Regions from separate parts of the Homo sapiens genome. Here region 1 is linked to region 2. Evidence: fine-mapped expression QTL. Tissue or cell type: whole blood. Region 2 holds a variant in brackets; the other region holds the start of a gene. All regions are shown on one strand. Distances are from middle to middle.

The links.
Region 1: it holds the start of ATP11A, and the variant in region 2 is fine-mapped to the expression of ATP11A in whole blood (TOPMed, PIP above 0.99).

Annotation. Positions count from the first base shown.
Region 1 is chr13:112,685,893-112,694,688 of GRCh38, reverse strand. ATP11A (ATPase phospholipid transporting 11A) reads right to left here and starts at 4,651. Exons shown (of 30, transcript NM_015205.3): 1 at 4,234-4,651. The coding sequence starts at 4,272. LOC102725228 (a long non-coding RNA gene) reads left to right here and starts at 4,874. Exons shown (of 2, transcript NR_187633.1): 1 at 4,874-5,026; 2 at 5,820-7,920. RefSeq lists enhancers at 2,497-2,998, 5,297-5,814 and silencers at 3,859-4,098, 4,119-5,048.
Region 2 is chr13:112,793,096-112,801,891 of GRCh38, reverse strand. All of the region lies in intron 2 of ATP11A (ATPase phospholipid transporting 11A), which reads right to left. It overlaps LOC124903252 (a long non-coding RNA gene), which reads right to left. Exons shown (of 2, transcript XR_007063947.1): 2 at 6,205-8,796. Among named protein-coding and RNA genes, the nearest start is that of ATP11A-AS1, 43 kb to the right of the region's middle. The variant T/A (reference allele first, on the strand shown) is at 4,774.

The DNA.
Region 1 (8,796 bases), 110 kb after region 2:
AATATCTGGGCTGAATCATTGAAAGAAGATTATAGGACCATAACAAGACTGAGTTCTTGACCCACAGAACTCTGAAGAAAAATCAAATGCCCTACATAGAGGCATGGAAGGGAAGAGGGAGGGAAGCATCCTGCCCACGCCGGGATGCTCAGCCTTACAGAGATCAAGGGCTGTTTTACCACAGCGTGTAAAGCTTTCTGAATCCTACCTGAGCTCCACACCATGCTCAGTGTCAGGGTGCCCGGTTTACCTCTCCTGTGACCCACGACGCCAGCAGGCCGGGACCCACAGGTAGCTGAGCAGCAGCACTGGCAGCCCATAGGTTTGCTCTCTCCCCAGCCAACCCTACCCAGGGACTCAGCTATGTTAACAGCCAGGCATGACAAACGGACTGAGAGCTTCCCCATTCTTGGCTCTCCACCCAGATTACCTCATTCAACCCTCACAATAGCTATGAAATGAGTACTGCTCTTACCCTCAGAGGAGAAAACTGAGGCAGAAGGAATTAAGCCACTTGCCCAAGGCCACATGGCTAAGAAGGGCAGGGAGGCTCCCACTCAGCATTCAGGCCACTGCCCAGAGAGTATCTAAGAAAAGTATCTAAGCTACCCGCTGAGGCTGCCCTGGTTCCTCTCGGAACTTAAACTACCTGAATCGGTGTTGCTCACCTTACAGCTCTGAAGAGGAAATGGAACTCGCTCTCCATCCATGCTGTTAAAAATACTCTTATTTATTTTGAGACGAGTTTCGCTCTTGTTGCCCAGGCTGGAGTGCAATGGTGCGATCTCAGCTCACTGCAACCTCCGCCTTCTGTGCTCAAGCAATTCTCCTGCCTCAGCCTTCTGAGTAGCTGGGATTACAGGCACCCGCCACCATGCCCGGCTAATTTTTGTATTTTTAGTAGAGACAGGGTTTCACCATGTTGGCCAGGTTGGTCTTGAACTCCTGATGTCAGGCGATCCACCCACCTCGGCCTCCCAAAGTGCTGGGATTACAGGCATGAGCCACCGCGCCTGGCCTAGAAGTGCTTTTAAAGTGTTACGTCATGGAGGTCAAACTACCTCATGGCACATGCACTACCCCATGGCTCATATGCTACCCCATAGCACATACACTACTCCACAACACATACGCCAGTCCACGGCACACACGCTACCCCATGGCTCCCACAGCACATACACCACCCCACGGCACACACACTCTCCACCCCGTCCCCTCTCCCCGTACCCACAGCTCATACATCACCCCAGAGAGCATACACCACCTCACGCCCCCGACAGCACATACATCACCCTAGGGAGCATACACTACCCCACAGCACATACACTACCCCACGGCACACACGCTTTTCCCCACGCCCCCCAGAGCACATACATCACCCCAGGGAGCATACACTACCCCATAAGCACAAGCACTCCTCATGGTATACAAACACGGCACCATTTACAAATACAAAGTATCTCTGCATGGCTCCGGTCCATCCAAACACCCAAACCACCAGTAACACACAGTGTGGAGTACCTGGCTACCCTGGCCTAACCTTCATCTGTTCTCTCACTCATTTGCCTCTGCTATCTCTCCAGGGTTAATCCACAATAAAATGCCTACAGCAATGTTTTCCAAGGACTTCTTTATCTTTTAGCCACCCTCACACATCAGAAGGAGCTGGAAAGCTTTCTTTGTCCCAGGAATTCTGACTATGTGAACACCAAGAAGGAACAGGGTCTATTTATCTATCCTTTTTAATAAAGTAAGTCACATAAGGAAACCATGAGGAAATATGAGTATTCAATCCCAGACTCTTTTTTCTGTAGCAAAAGGAAATATAATTTAGTCCTACATAGTGGACGATAACGCAATTACAAGAAAACAGATCATGACTGTTTCTGGAAAAAGTCAAATTAGTTTAATACCATAGACATGAACTTAAAATGATAGAGATGAATGGCTCTGTGTGTAAATATGGGTGAGGTAGCCAGATGAATACACTGCAAAAAACACAGGTGGAATGAGAAAAACAGAAATAATATTATCCCACAACTCGTATTCCCGAGACGTTATCCAATAATGTATATGCTGGAAAAGTTCACTAAAGAATATTTACCGCTTAGATTAAAAGAAAATGTGATGCCATAAGCGTAATAATACAGCAAAGGGGAATTAAAAATGCAAGCTACGCAAACACTTATATAGATCTATATAACAGAAAACAGCTGAAGGCCTGGAGAAAGGGAGTCAAGCATCAAAATTGGACGTCTGTCTGTCCCCCTCCCAAGATGAAGGGGTCAGAAACCGGCTGGGAAGGGGGGATTCTCCAAAGGGTGAGCCGGGCTGGCCCATCCATCTCTCATTTCTATGGAAAGAGGCTGCACATTAGCCCCACAACGTGACCCTCCTTTTTAACACTGAGTGTTAGAAGGGAACGGAATGAACTGGGAACACCGCGGGCAAAGTGAGTGTTAGTCCCTTCCCTCTTCCATTTCGCTCGAAGGAAACAAAGCAGGAAAATAAGGTGTCTAGGGACCCACACTTCTGAGCGACACAACTGAGAACAGAAGCTTCCGCCCAATAAAGCATTTCTCTTACACTGCAGGTTACCTATAGTCACTGTGATTGGGTCTTCTATAACGTTACCACAGTGAAACACAGGTTTACCACTCACATTAGGATTTGAACTGGGGGCTCGAGCACCAGTGAGGGAGTAACACAAGGCTCCTGGAGCCAAGCCTTTCAAGATCTAGCATCGGAATCATCAGAATCACCAGGGGTGAGTTCTCTCCACTTAAGTAAGTCAGGCTGACCTTCCTAAGGCTTCCCCGAGATCAGGAAACGATGTAAGGTGCACTCAAGTCTCCTTGACTCTCCGAGGTTTTTGGTTAATAAATAAATCCGGGGGAAAGCATTGATCTGGCATCCCCCACTGAAAAGAAACCTATCTATCTTTGGCCAAGGTCTCCTATTTAAAGAAGGCTCATAAATATGAAAGGCTGCCTGAGGTAATTCCTATGCCGGGAAAGAACAAAGTTCCCATAATACTGCCCTCTCTAGTATCAAACCCGGTGCATGCGACTTCTCGAACCTGTGATTGACCAGTGACCGCCAGCCTCTATGGAACAATGAAGCCTCTTGTGCAAGACAGTGGCAGGAAACGCTGTGCTTGGGACAGTTTTCTTCCTCTCCTACACACACACACACACACACACACCCTTTTTTTTTTTTTTTTTTGATACAGAGTCTCGCTCTGTCACCCAGGTTGGAGTGCAGTGGCTCGATCTCGGCTCATTGCAACCACCGCCTCCCGGGTTCAAGCGATTCTCCTGCCTCAGCCTCCTGAGTAGCTGGGATCCCAGGCGCCTACCACCACGCCCGGCTAATTTTCGTATTTTTTAGCAGAGACGGGGTTTCACCATGTCGGTCCGGCTGGTCTCAAACTCCTGACCTCGTGATCCGCCCGCCTCGGCCTCCAAAAGTGCTGGGATTACAGGCGTGAGCCACCGCGCCCGGCCACACACCCCTTTTTACACCTAACGCCAGGGATTCCGGTTTCCCCTCCTCTGGTGTAAAACAAAATCAACTTTTCCCCTTCCGAGTCTTCCCTCCTGAGCTCTTCACTTGCTTATCACTGAAGGGGCAAATTCCAGAGGAACCCAAGAAGACCCCGGACTTCTGATCTAATTGGTTACTTTAAGGTAAAAAATAAAAAGATTCCAAACTCCGCTTCTGAATCCCCCAGGGGTGTTAAAGAACAAACACAATTGCTACCTTTTTCTGCAGAAGTGTAACGCTTCCTCCCAATCCCTTAATCTTACAGACACGGCTGCGCGGAAGCCGCATCTGAAGGTTCCTCCCCAGACCCGGGCCCCGGCGGGGTCGAAGTTGGCTCCCTCCGGGCGCCCGGTCCGCCGGGACAGCTCGAACCCCAGCCAGCCTCTCCGAGGGACCCCCAGGGCGCTGCGGGCGGGAAGGGGGCGCCAGGCGGCCGCGGCCAGGGAGCAGGTGGCCGCCCGGGGCTGGGGCCCCGCGCTGTGCCCACCTAGACCCCGTCGGAAGCCCCAGGGTGTCAACTCCGAGGCCCCTCCCCAGCATCCCGCTCGTCCCCGGGGGCGGTCCGAGTCCCAGACATCGGAGACCTCCCGGGACCCCGGGGCTGGACCGGCCACAGGGTCCGGGCTGCGGGGCCGGCCCGCGTCTGTCTGGTCCCCGGGTCCCCCAGCCCGCGCCGGGAGCACTCACGTATCTGTGCACGAGCGTCCGCACGAGGCTGCAGTCCATGGCTCCTCCGGCCGCTCCCGCTCCGCCGTTCAGCGCCCCCGCGCCCGGCTCGGCGCGCCCATGGGCTCCGGGGTACTAGTGCGGCCGCGCCCCCCGCTCCGGTCACGGCCTCGGCGCGCCGGGCGGTGCAGGGGGCGGCCGCGGCCCCTCCGCGCTCATGCCCGGCCCGGCCGGCGAATGCTGGGTCCGCGGCCCCGCGCGTCGGCAGCTGCTCCACTGGCGGCAAGGCTGCTGCTCGGGGCCGCGCGCGCGCGCTCTGGCGCCTTCTCTCTCCCCGTCGGTCCGCCCGCTCGGTTGGGCTCGGCTGGAGCACCCCGGCCGCGGCGGAGCCTGCGCTCTGCTCCTCCCGAGTCTCCTCCTCCCCTGCCCGCCGCCCTCTGGAGCCTCCGGGCCCCGCTGGCTCCTGCCCCTGCTCCGGGCGCGCACGTCACCGGCGCAAGTGAGCATGCGCCCCGCGGCCGCAGCCCCCGCCGGCCCCGCGCCCACACCCGCGCTCGCACCCGCGCGCCGGCCCTGCCCCCTCGCGCCTCCGCCCGGGCCCCAGACCCTGGGGGCAGAGGGCAGAGGGCAGAGGTCAGAGGCCGCGGGGAGGAACCCCCCTGTTGCTTCCGCCTCCCGGGGCGCAGGCGCTGGGCGCGGCGGGGAAGGGACTCGGCACTGGGGAAACCCGGAGTTTCAGCCAGGGTCCCAGGGCTTCCTTCCCGGGTTCCTGCCGGAAAACTTTTCTCCTCCGCCCGGAAGCCTCGATGGGGCAGTGAGATCGCGGGGCGAGGTGGGAGTGTGGGAGGGGGCCGCGGGCAGAGAGCGGGAGTCCGGCTGGGTGGGAGATCTCCTGAGCCGAAGCTGGGTCTCGCCCCAGCGTGGCGCCACCGACCCGCAGGCTTTTCCTGCTCTGCAGATGGAGAGACACAGGGACGCTCCTCAGGTGGCTGCCCTGGGCTGCCAGCCTGTCAGTGGGAGGGGAGGGTGCAGACAAGAGGCCCCTGTTTCCGAAACCCCTCTGTCCCCAAAGCTGCGACAGCAGAAGACACTTAGGCGGCCTGAGGGGTTGGTGAACCACAGAGGAGCTCAGCTTCGCCTGGTCTCCAGCTCCCGGTGGCGGTGGCGTGTCCTTAATGCTGCTGGCTTTGAACTGGACTGAGAACTATTTACCACACAAACACCACCATTTCAATCCCGGAGAATGCCTGTTTTCCCTAGGGTGACCTGGCCGGGGTAACAAACACTTGTTCTCTAATTCCACGGTCAGCCTTGACTTAATTGAGGTACTTGATTTCCAACTTCCTGTCTTGCTGCCACAGATAATCACTGATGAAACCAAACAGGCAACACCTTTTGGTGGCCTGTGGAGAGCGCTGCCCCGTCTGGGTCTTAGGAAGGCAATTGAATATGAATGTTCTCCCGAGTGCTTGTGGAAAAGAGATGGTGTTGGCCACTTTTTAGACGAAGAGAAATGAGTACTAGTGAACACTAATCATAGTGACTAAACAGTAAACGGCTCCCATTTGTTGTCGGCTAAAGCACTGATTCTTCATTTTCCATCCCAGCCTGTCCTGCTCTGGCCTGCCCTGTGCTCAGGAAGCTGGCGGTCCCCCTCAGTGGATCTTCACCCACAGGGACAACCTGCTGCAGACCGGGTAGGAGGGAGGCAGGGGCCTCTTCCCCTCTCCTTCCTGGCCTGGCCCCACACCCACCAGTGTTGGTTTCACTCTGTGGCTACGATTCTTCCTGGGTGCCCTTTCCATTGCACAACTCCTCTAGGCTCTACGAACAGAACTTCTCCCCGCCCCCAAGCCTCTTAGGGTGAGACATGTTGTCGGTCTGCCATTGTTGCTGGTCCCTAAATAGCAGCACCCTTTGAAGGATCCTTGAACCATGACCACACCGCAACAAAGAGTCCTTCATCAAACTCGCTTCCAAATCCCCTCCCAAGAACACCTTCAGTTTCCTGCAAGAACCCTGACTGCTGAAGCCGGATTTTGACTAAGCTTCTACCTTGTAAACCGTGACTGTGGGATTGGGGTCGAGGCGCAATCAGAGGTTGTATAAGGCACTAGATCAAGGCTGCCTGTCTGTCAGGAGTGTCTGCTTTATTCAGTAGTAAATGTGAATTGTTTTTCATTCTGTTGTGAATACTGTTGGTTGACAATGCAGCAGCCATGCCCTCTCTATCCTTGCTGGTTCAGGTATCCACTCTGTGTGGCTAAGGGTAAACTCTGTCTCTTGAGAAAATCTTGGTAACTCCATTTCTCTTTCCAACAATTGGCTTCAAACAAGCTCAAGTCAATGAGTCCCAACAGGAAGCCTGCTGGGGGTTGTCTGGCAAAGGTTTTCTCACTCCTACAGGAACATAAAGAGGAAATGCTCCTTTTTCCCTGGTGAATGTTGCATTCCCTGTCTGGATGCAATGCCTGGTGCTCCGCAGCCCTTTGCACTTATAAGAGAAGGTGGCCGGAAGAGCATCTTCACCCTGGGGTGGCCGCCTGGGAAGATGAGAAGAGCAGGAGTCCTTGGTGGCACAACCAGGCAATTCACCAAAATCCTGCTGCCCTCACCTGGAATTTCCTGCTATGAGAGACGTCTCCGTTTAAACCACATGAGCTGGATTTTCTGTTTCTAACACATGTCAGCATCTTCACGGTAAATCTAAGAAAAAAAAATCAGGGCTATTAAAAAACAAAGTCCAACTCACCCTGTGCTATGGTCTGAAGGTGTCCTCCCAAATTCACACGTGGAAACCTAATCCCAAATACCTGATACCTAATCCCAAATATTAAGAGGTGGGGGCCTTGGGAGGTGGTTAGGAATGGGATTAGTGCCCTTTAAAACTGAGGTTTTTGGGAGCCTGCTTGCCCTTTCTGCCATATGAAGATGCTTAGAAGAGGCCTTCTATGAAGCAGAGAACTTTTCTCAGATGCCAGATCTGCTGGGACCTTGATCTTGGATTTCTCAGCCTTCAGAACTGTGGGAAGCAAACTTCTGTGTGTATGAATAGCCATCTAAAGGATTTTGTTACAGCAGCCTGAGCAGACTAAGACACCCTGTGAGTCAGTTATTTTTGGCTGTGTCACGAGTGACCGCGAGTGCAGGAGCTGAAACGGCAGTGAGTGGGTTACCATTTCTCAGGACCCTGCGGAATTGGTGCGATGGTGCTTCTGCTCCACCTGTTGTTGGCTGGGATTGTCCTGCAGCTGCATTCTTCTGGGGGTCAGCTGGGGCTGGAAGCTTCCTGTGGTCTAGTCACACAGCTGGGGTCTCAGCTAGGGTGATAGAACACTGGGGGCAGGCCGGCCTTGCTGTCTCTCTCTGGCTTCTCATCATTCAGTGGTCTAGCCTGAGTTTTTTACATGGCAGCTCAGGAGGGTCAATGTGGACGCTATACAGCCTGTAAGGCCCGGGTTTGGAAGTCCAAGAATATGACTTCTACCATGTTCTACTGGTGAATATAAATTCCAAGGCCAGCCTAGATTCAAGGGATAAGAACGTAGATTTCACTCCTTGATGGGAGGATCCCATGTACAGACAGGGATCCTTATGAGGGATTATGAGAACTCCTAATCCTTATGAGGGATTATCATACAGAGAATTTATGGGGGATTATCTTTGGAAATAATCTACCATAGACTGAATAAATGATAATGTAATGTGTTGGTGCCCCTCCCAGTGCATTCAAAAGTGAAACGACTGCCAGAACTCCAGGGCCTGCAAGTTTCTTCCTTCACATCTAAGCAGAAGGAGAGACTTCACAGTGACGTGCCAGCTAAGTCACGTGCCCACTCCTGCCCAGTCTGTCACGCAAGTAGCAGAGTCCCTGAGATGATTGGCTTAGGCCCGAGGTCAGTGCACATCACCAAACTAGTAAGTGTCCAAGGGGAATGAAATTGTCTTCGCCTCAAATAACCAGGACCTACCCCTGACCCACTGCGAGCACAGCTGCTTCACAGTGCTGGAGGGATGGGATGAATGAGGAGGAGGCAACAGCTAGGAGGCCAACCCCAAGACTTGAAATTGTGGGTTTGCAAATGGGTGCTTCAGGTGACACCCTGGCCACACCCTCACCTACACACAGACTCATAAACACCTATCCTGCATTCCTCCCTCCACCTTTCTTTCCAAAGAAATCTTGGATTCATTGGCCCCTAAGTGAAAAAAACTGGGGGGAAATAAGGGAGTGGGGGCAAAAAAATGAGGTCTTCCTGCAAAGACAGTTCAGAAGAATTGTTGCACCGAGACCTGAAATGACAAACCCAAAGCCAGAGCCAACTGCTGTAGACACAGAACCAGGAAGTGTGAATTATTAATGAGTGTCATTTTGGTGCTAGAAAGAGCTATTACCTGAGGGTGGTGACTCAAGCTGGGCCTCCGAGGGCAAACAGCCTTGCTCCTCCAAGTTACTGGCCCATGCTGTGCACACGTGTCTTCAGTCGCTATCCCCACAGGTCCAGAATTACCTAGGTGACCATCTCCCCAGGGATTGGTCCTAAAGTTCTTTTTTTTTTTTTTTTTTTTCCTTTGAGACAGGGT
Region 2 (8,796 bases):
TTAACTTGCTGGGAATTTGATTAGGACAGGTCAAAGTGGGAAGAACTGACATCTTAAAAACATGGAGTTTTCCCATCCATGAACATGGAACATCTCTCCATTAATTTAAGTCTTTGATTTCGTTACAGTTTTGTCGTTTTCCTTACCTAGACCTTGTACATATCTTGTTAGATTTATACCTGTGTAATTTGGTGGGTGGGGGGGTTAAATGTAAATAGTGTTGTTTTCAATTTCAAATTCCAACTGTTCATTGCTGGCATATAGGATAGCGATTAATTTTTGCATCCTGCAACCATGCTATAATCGCCTCTAACATCCAGAAGTTTTTTTGTTATTGTTGGTTCTTTGGGATTTTCTGCATGGACAATCATATCACTTGTGAACAAAGATAGTCTTATTCCTTCCTTCCCAATCTGTAGGACTTTTATTCCCATTTCTACTCTTACTGTATTAGCTAGGATTTCCAGTACAATGCTGCATAAGAACAGTGATAAGGGATTTCTTGCCTTTTTTCCAATCTTAGGGTGAAATCATCTCGTTTTTCACCATTAAGTATGACGTCAGCTGTAGGCCTTTTATTCCCATTTCTACTCTTACTGTATTAGCTAGGATTTCCAGTACAATGCTGAATAAGAACAGTGATAAGGGATTTCTTGCCTTTTTTCCAATCTTAGGGTGAAATCATCTCGTTTTTCACCATTAAGTATGACGTCAGCTGTAGGCCTTTTATTCCCATTTCTACTCTTACTGTATTAGCTAGGATTTCCAGTACAATGCTGAATAAGAACAGTGATAAGGGATTTCTTGCCTTTTTTCCAATCTTAGGGTGAAACCATCTCGTTTTTCACCATTAAGTATGACGTCAGCTGTAGGGCTTTTCGGAGATGCTCTTTATGAAGCTCAGGAAATTCCCCTCTGTTTTTAGTTTGCTGCAGTACATGAGTGGGTAGTGAATTTTGTCAAATTCTTTTTCTGCACCTATTGATATAATCATGTAAGTTTTCTTTTTTAGCCTGTAAATATGGGTTATATTAGTCGATTTTCAAATGTTGGATCAGCCTTGCATACCTAGGATAAACCCACTTGGTCATGGTGTATAATTCTTTTTATACATTGTTGAATTGGACTTGCTAATATTTTATTGAGAATCGTTGCTTCTATGTTCATGAGAAATACTGGTGTGTGATATCGTCTTTCTGGTAATATCTTTTTCTGGTTTTGGTTTTAGGGTAATGCTGGCCTCATAGAACGAATTAGAAAATGTTCCTTCCGCTTCTATTACCTGGAAGAGATTGTAGAGAATTGATTTTTTTTTTTTTCCTTAAATGTTTGGTAGAATTCACCAGTGAAAACATCTGAGTCTTGTGCTTTCCGTTTTGGAAGAGTATTAATTACGGATTCCATTTCTTTTAATTGATGTAGGCCCACCCAGATTATATTTCTCCTTGTTTGAGTTTTGGTAGATAGCGTTTTTCAAGAAACTGGCCAATGTTATCTAAGTTACCAAGTTTATGGGTGTAGGGCTGTTCATGATATTCCTTTTAATCTTTTTATTAGCCATGTTACCAGTAGTGATGCCCCTCCTTTATTTCTGATGTTTGGAATTTGTGTCTCTTTTCTTTTCCTCTTGTTTAGCCTGGCTAAAGTTTTATTGATTTTATTGATTTTTTTTTTTCAAAGAACCAGCTTTTGATGTTTAAAATTTTCTCTGATTTCCTGTTTTCAATTTCATTAATTTCTGTTCTAATGTTGATTATTAATTTTTTGTTAAGTTTCCTAATGTTGAAGCTTGTAGATTTTGGATCTTTCTTCTTTTCTAATCTATGTAGTCAATACTATAAATTTCCCTCTAAGCACTGCTTTTCCTGCATCCCACAAGATTTGATAAGTTATATTTTTTGTTTAGCTTAAAATATTTTTATGCCTCTTGAGACTTCTTTGGTTCATGTGTTATTTAGTAGTGTTTTGTTTAATCTCCAAATATTTTGGGATTTTCCAGTTAACTTTGTTATTTATTTATTTCTAGTTTAATTCTACTGTGGTCTGAAAGAGTACTTGGTATGATTTCTATTCTTTGAAAAGGTGCTAAGGTGTATTTTATGGCCCAGAATGTGATCTGTCATGGCAAATGTTCCATGTGAACTTGAGAAGAATGTGTGGTCTGCTATTGTTGAATGAAGTATTTTATAAATTGTGAGGCCTCTGAGCCCAAGCTAAGCCTGTGACCTGCACATATACACCCAGATGGCCTGGAGCAACTGAAGAACCACAAAAGATGACATTCCACCTTTGTGATTTGTTCCTGCCTCACCCCAACTAATCAATCAACCTTGTGACATTCCCCCCTGGACAATGAGTCTCATGACCTCCCCACCCTGCACCTTGTGACCCCCGCCCCTGCCCACAAGGGATAACCACCTTTAACTGTAATTTTCCACTACATACCCAAATCCTATAGAACTGCCCCACCTCCATCTCCCTTTGCTGACTCCTTTCTCGGACTCAGCCCACTTGCATCCAAGTGAATAAACAGCCTTGTTGCTCACACAAAGCCTATTGGTGGACTCTCTTCACATGGACGCGTGAGACATAAAGGTCCATTAGATCCAAGGGACTGATGGTGCTGTTCAGTTCAACCGTGTCCTTACTGATTTTCTGCCTGTGGACAGAGGTCATGAAGTGTCCAAATATAACAGTGGATTTTCTTTCTCTTTCCAGTTCTATCCGTTTTTGCCTCACATATTTTGACCCTCTGTTGTTACAGAGACTTTGAGAATTGTTATGTTGTCTTGGAGAACTGACCTCTTTGTTGTTTGGCAATGCCCCTCTTTATCCCTGGTAACTTCTCTTGTTCTGAAGTCTGCTTTGTCTGAAATTAATATAGCTAATCTTGTGTCCCTTTGAGTAGTAGCAGCATGGTACATCTTCCTCTATCTCTTAAACCCGTGTTTTTATATTTAAAGTGCCTTTCCTGCACACAACATATGGTTAGGTCTTGTTTTTTCTATTCTGACAGTTTCTGTATTTGGTTTATTTAGACAATTCACACTTAAAGTGATTATTAATATAGCTGGATTAATATTTACCATATTTGTAACTGACTTTTATTCCTTTCTTCATAGTCTTTGTTTCTTTTGTGACTTATACTCTTTTCCTGCCATCTTGGGTTTTAATTAAGCATTTGATGTGACTATTTTCTCTCCTGTCTTAGAATATCAACTATACTTATTTTTTAAAAAAATTACTTAGTGGTTGCACTAGAGGCCACAATATACGCCCACTCTCACATAACCCGCACTGTGTGTGTGGCGCAGATTCCTCGCAACAGCATGCCCAGTTCCTTCTTGCCCCCCAGGGCACTGCTGTCATACATTTCATTCACCCCTGAGCAATCACCACTGAGTAAATGCTATTATCATTCTGAATAAAGTACTCTCTGTTAGACCAATTAAGAACACGAAAAGCAAGCTGGGTGCTGTGCCCTGTAATCCTAGCACTTCAGGAGGCTGAGGCAGTGGATCCCTTGAGCCCAGAAGTTCTAAACCCGTCTGGGCAACATGGTGAGATCACGTCTCTAAAAGAAATAAAAAACAACAAAAAAGCAAAATATTTAATTTTACTACCTTCACTTATTCCTTCTTGCTATGGTTTGAATGTGTCCCCTCCAAAATTCAGGTGTTGCCAATGTGACAACTAGTCACGGTCCCAGGAGGCGGGGCCTTCAAGAGTTCTGATTCCGCCATGCGGGCTCCTCCCTCATGAATGGGATTAGGTGCCTGTATAAAAGGGCTCGGCAGAGGGAGTTTGCCCCTTTGCCCTTTTGCCTTCTGCCACATAAGGACACAGCCTTCCCCCACTCCAGAGGATGCAGTGCTCAAGGAGCCATCTTGGAAGCAGAGATGGGGCCCTCACCAGACACCAAACCTGCCAGTGTCTTGATCTTGGACTTCCCAGACTCTAGAACTGTGGGGAAATCAATGTCTCTTCTCTATAAATTACCCAGTCTGTGGTATTCTGTTGTAACAGCACAAAAACTCACACTTTAGTGCTGTGTTCTTCTTTCCTAAGTAGACCTGAATTTCTGACCTATATAATTTTCCTTCTTTCTGAAGAACTTTTAACATTTCTTGCAAGGGAGGTCTACTGGCAATGAATTCGCTCAATTTTTGTTTGCCTGAAAAAGTCTTTATTTCTCCTTCACGAATGAAGGATAATTTTATGAGATACAGAATTCTGGGTTGCTGGCTTTTTCTTTCAACACTTTAAATATTTTACATTATTCTTTTCTTCCTTAGATGGTTTCTGGAAGAAAGTTTGATATAATTCTTACCCTTGTTTCTCAGCAGGTAAAATGTTCTTTTCCTGTGGCTTCTTTCAAGATTTTTTCTGAGTCTAATTTTCTGCAATTTAAATGTGATATGTCTAGGTGTACCCTTTTTAAAAAATTTATTCTGCTTTTGTATTTATCTCTGAGCTTCCTGGATCGGTAGTTTGGCATCTGCCATTAATTTTGGAAATAGCCACTTTTACTGGAGATATTTCTTCTCTCTTCTTTTGTTTTTTTCATTATGCATATATGGTTTACCTTTTTTTTTTTTTTTTTTTTTGAGATGGAGTTTTCACTCTGGCTGCCCAGGGTGGAGTGCAGTGGTGCTATCTTGGCTCACTGCAACCTCTGCCTCCCAGCTTCAAGGGATTCTTGTGCCTCAGCCTCCCAAGTAGCTGGGATTACAGGCACCTGCCACCACACCTGGCTAATTTTTTTAAAAAAAA[T/A]TTTTATTTTTTGTATTTTCAGTACAGACGGGGTTTCACCATGTTGGCCAGTCTTGTCTCAAACTCCTGACCTCAGGTGATCTGCCCACCTTAGCCTCCCAAAGCGCCAGGATTACAGGCGTGACCACCGTGCCTGGCCTGCTTCACCTATTGTAGTTGTCCACAGTTCTGTTCTGTTTCTTCACTCTTTTTTCCTCTTTGCTCTTCAGTTTGGAAAGTTTCTATGGACATGTCTCAAGGTCACGGGTCCTTTGCACACCACGTCAGTCTCTGAGCAGCCTGTATTACAAATCCCCGATGTGGCTAGGGCAGGTGTATGATTCTATGGGCATGTCTCAAGGTCACGGGTCCTTTGACACCGCGTCAATCTCCGTACAGTCTGTATTATAAATCCCCAAAGTAGTTAGGACAGGTGTATGAGTTTCTTATGCTGCTATAACAAATTCCACTTTGTGACTTAAAACAATGCAAATTTATTACCTTACTGTTCTGGAGGTCAGAAGTTTGCAATGGGATTCACTGGGTTAAAATTAAAGTATCAGCAGGGCTGGTTCCTTCCTGGAGGCTCCAGGGAGAAACTTTTCTTGCCTTTTCTTGCTTCCTGCAGAGGCTGCCTACATCCTTTGGTCCCCTTCAACCTCTGAAGCCAGTCGTAGCTCGGACAGTCTGTTCTGCCTCCCTCTTCCACTTACAAGTGCCTCTGTGGTTACTTTTGGCCACATGAATAGTTCTATAATCACCTCCCTATTTTAATGTCAGCTGTTTGGCAATCTTGATTCCCTGGCCACAGACAGTGTCATAGTCAGAGGTTCTGGGGATCAGGATGTGGACATCTGTGGGAGGCCATCCTTCTGCCTGCCACACTAGGTTTTCTTCATGGGAATGCAACCAAATTGAGAACCAAAAGGCAAGAGCTCTGGATGGAAAAGTAGCCATACAAACTGAGACAGAGTAGAGAACACATGGCTAGCTCTTCATTTCTTTTGTTTCTCATTCAGAAAAAAAGCAAACAAAAACACCAGATTGCCAATAAAAGTATAGGCACTTTCTTCCTTTACAAAAACCACAATCTTAATTCACAATTTGCTAACCCCACCTCAAGATAATTTAGGTACTCTATCGAAATTCTGGAAATATTTACTCTTTAGCATACTATGAAACACATAGACTTCAGAGTCAGTCCCCATATTCGATCCTGACCCTGCCATTTAAAAACCATGTAAACTTCAGCAAATTATTTAATGATTCTGAGTTCTAGTTTTCTTGTGTATACAACTTGGCAAACATTACACATGTGATCGACCTTTTTAAATATTTGAGAAAGATATATTTTCTCTCAAATGGGCCACAATGAAAAAGTCAGTTACTCTCCATTAGCTTTTAAAAGGATACATTAAAGAAATACCTTAGCTCACCCATGTGAGGCCAGTCTTACTTTCCAGCATCCAAGCCAACAAATTTATTACAATTATACGTTTCCACAAATTTCTATAATACATCACTCAGTAACAAAGTCACATTAATGAAAAAAGAGTCTACTTAAAATTCCACCTTTCATTTACTGAAGTACTTTCAGATGAAAAGTACACGCTGTCCAGGATTCCTTCCAAAGGACCCTTGGAACTACAGTGAAGGTGCAGATGCAACAGGCTGGCCACAAGCTGGGAACTGTGACAGTGGAGACGAGCCACAGAGATTTACAATGCTCCTCTCTATGGTTTTGAAAGTTCCCATGTTACACGAGGAAGTTCTGGTAATATTTATGAGATAAAATATGATCTGCAATCCTTCCAAACATGCAGATCTACTTCCATCAGGCCTGGAAGGCTGTGCAAACTCATGGACTTGCCATAACTTATTTATTTATTTATTTTGAGATGAAGTCTCACTCTGTCGCCCAGGCTGGAGTGCAGTGGCGCCATCTCGGCTCACTGCAACCTCTGCCTCCCAGGTTCAAGCGATTCTCGTGCCTCAGCCTCCCGAGTAGCTGGGATTACAGGCAACCCCCCAAGATGCCCGGCTAATTTTTGTATTTTTAATAGAGACGGGATTTCACCATGTTGCCCAGGCTGATCTTGAACTCCTGACTTCAGGTGATCCACCTGCCTCAGCCTCCCAAAGTGCTGGAATTACAGGCGTGAGCCACCGCACCTGGCAGGGCCTTGCCATATTTGAATGTTACTGTACAGCTTTGGAATTTGAAACCACCTGCATGATTGCTTTATTCTTTTTTTCTTTTCTTTTCTTGAGACAGGGTCTTACTCTGTCTGTCACCCAGGCTGGAGTGCGTTGGCACAATCTCGGCTCACTGCAACCTCTGCCTCCCGGGTTCAAGCGATTTTCCTGCCTCAACCTCCCGAGTAGCTAGAAATACAGGCGCCCGCCACCACACGCAGTTAATTTTTTATTTTTTGGTAGAGACAGGATTTCACCATGTTGGCCAGGCTTGTCTAGAACTCCTGACCTCGTGATCCGCCCGCTTCGGCCTCCCAAAGTTCTGGGATTACAGGTGTGAGCCACTGCGCCTGGCCTCAATTGCTTTATTCTAATCAGGCACTGAGGGCTGCAGCCAAGCCCCATGATGCTGTGTAATCTCTATGTTTCACAGAGTAAGTTATTACTGCTGACCACTACTATTGTCAAAAGGAGGGTTATTAATTCCTGGTGATGTCTAACAAGAAAAGTGAAATCCCAGGGAACTCATTTAAAGGGTCGTGACTGCACTGACACAGCAGTACCATCGGGATACAATCAACTGAAATGAGCATTTTATTCCACACGTTAGAGTGGGAAGGCTGACAATGGTGGACAGTTATCCTTCGCTCATCGTTGTTGAATTGTAAAAATGTAAGTATTTGCCTGGGGACACAATGTAATGTAACACTGGGCCCTTCGACTGTGATACAATCAGTAGACGTCCTCAATCCTAGGAGCTCCTGGCGTGAAAGCCACAGCATAGAACCAAGTGGTTTTCCTCCTACAGGAAATCTGGGAAAACCGAGTGGTGCTTGGCACCTCTCTTCACCTCCAAAGACACCATGTGTTTTGCTGAATGACACGGGACAGTCATTCTTTTCGTTTCTCACTTGTACGACAGACGCCATAGCCAGAGTCCACAGCTGCCCTGGCTCTGATTTTGGCCCTGAGCTGGAACGCCTCACTAGTGTCTGAGCCTCAGGTTTCCGCTGCCTCCTGCCCCTTGGGGTAGCCAGTCTCTGTTTTGTGTTACTTGCCAGCAGTGTGGTGTGCAGACAGGGAAGAGCATGGCCTCACCTGGCCTGCCTCTGGCCTCTGGCTGCGAGACGAACCCGGGCACTGTCCCCTGCCAGCAGCCCAGGCGCCCGCAGGAGCACCTACAAGCTGTCTGAAGCCTCAACTAGTGTTCACCTGAACACAGCTCCAGCACCACAGGGCCCACCTGACAGTCCTGAAAAAGGCGGGGACGCCGGACACCCATCTGCTTGGGACAAGCAGCCACTCGCATGGAACTGAGGTCACTCTTTTGTTTATGACCGGGAGGCAGGGATGCAAAACACAGAAAATTATGCCAGGATGGTGGATTGCTGATGCCGGAAATTCGTGAGCACCCAGAGGGGCTGTTAAGAAACGTGCCCCTGGATGGGCGCGGCGACTCACGTCTGTAAACCCAGCACTTTGGGAGGCCGAGGCGGGTGAATCACCTGAGGTCAGGAGTACAAGACCAGCCTGGCCAACAATGGCAAAACCCCATCTTTGCTAAAAACATAAAAATTAACTAGGTGTGGTGGTGGGCACCTGTAGTTCCAGCTACTTGGGAGGCTGAGGCAGGAGAATCACTTAAACCCGGGCGGTGGAGGTTGCAGTGAGCCAGGATCGCACCATTGCACTCCAGCCTGGGCACAGAGAGAGACTCTGTCTCAAAAATGAAAAGAAAGGGCCCCTGGCTCTGCGGAAGGAAGTCCAAGCCCAGTGCCAGACTACAGGGGCTCTATCCTCTTCTGTGGCCTCAGGCACATGACTGAGCTCTAAGCCTCAGCTTCCTCA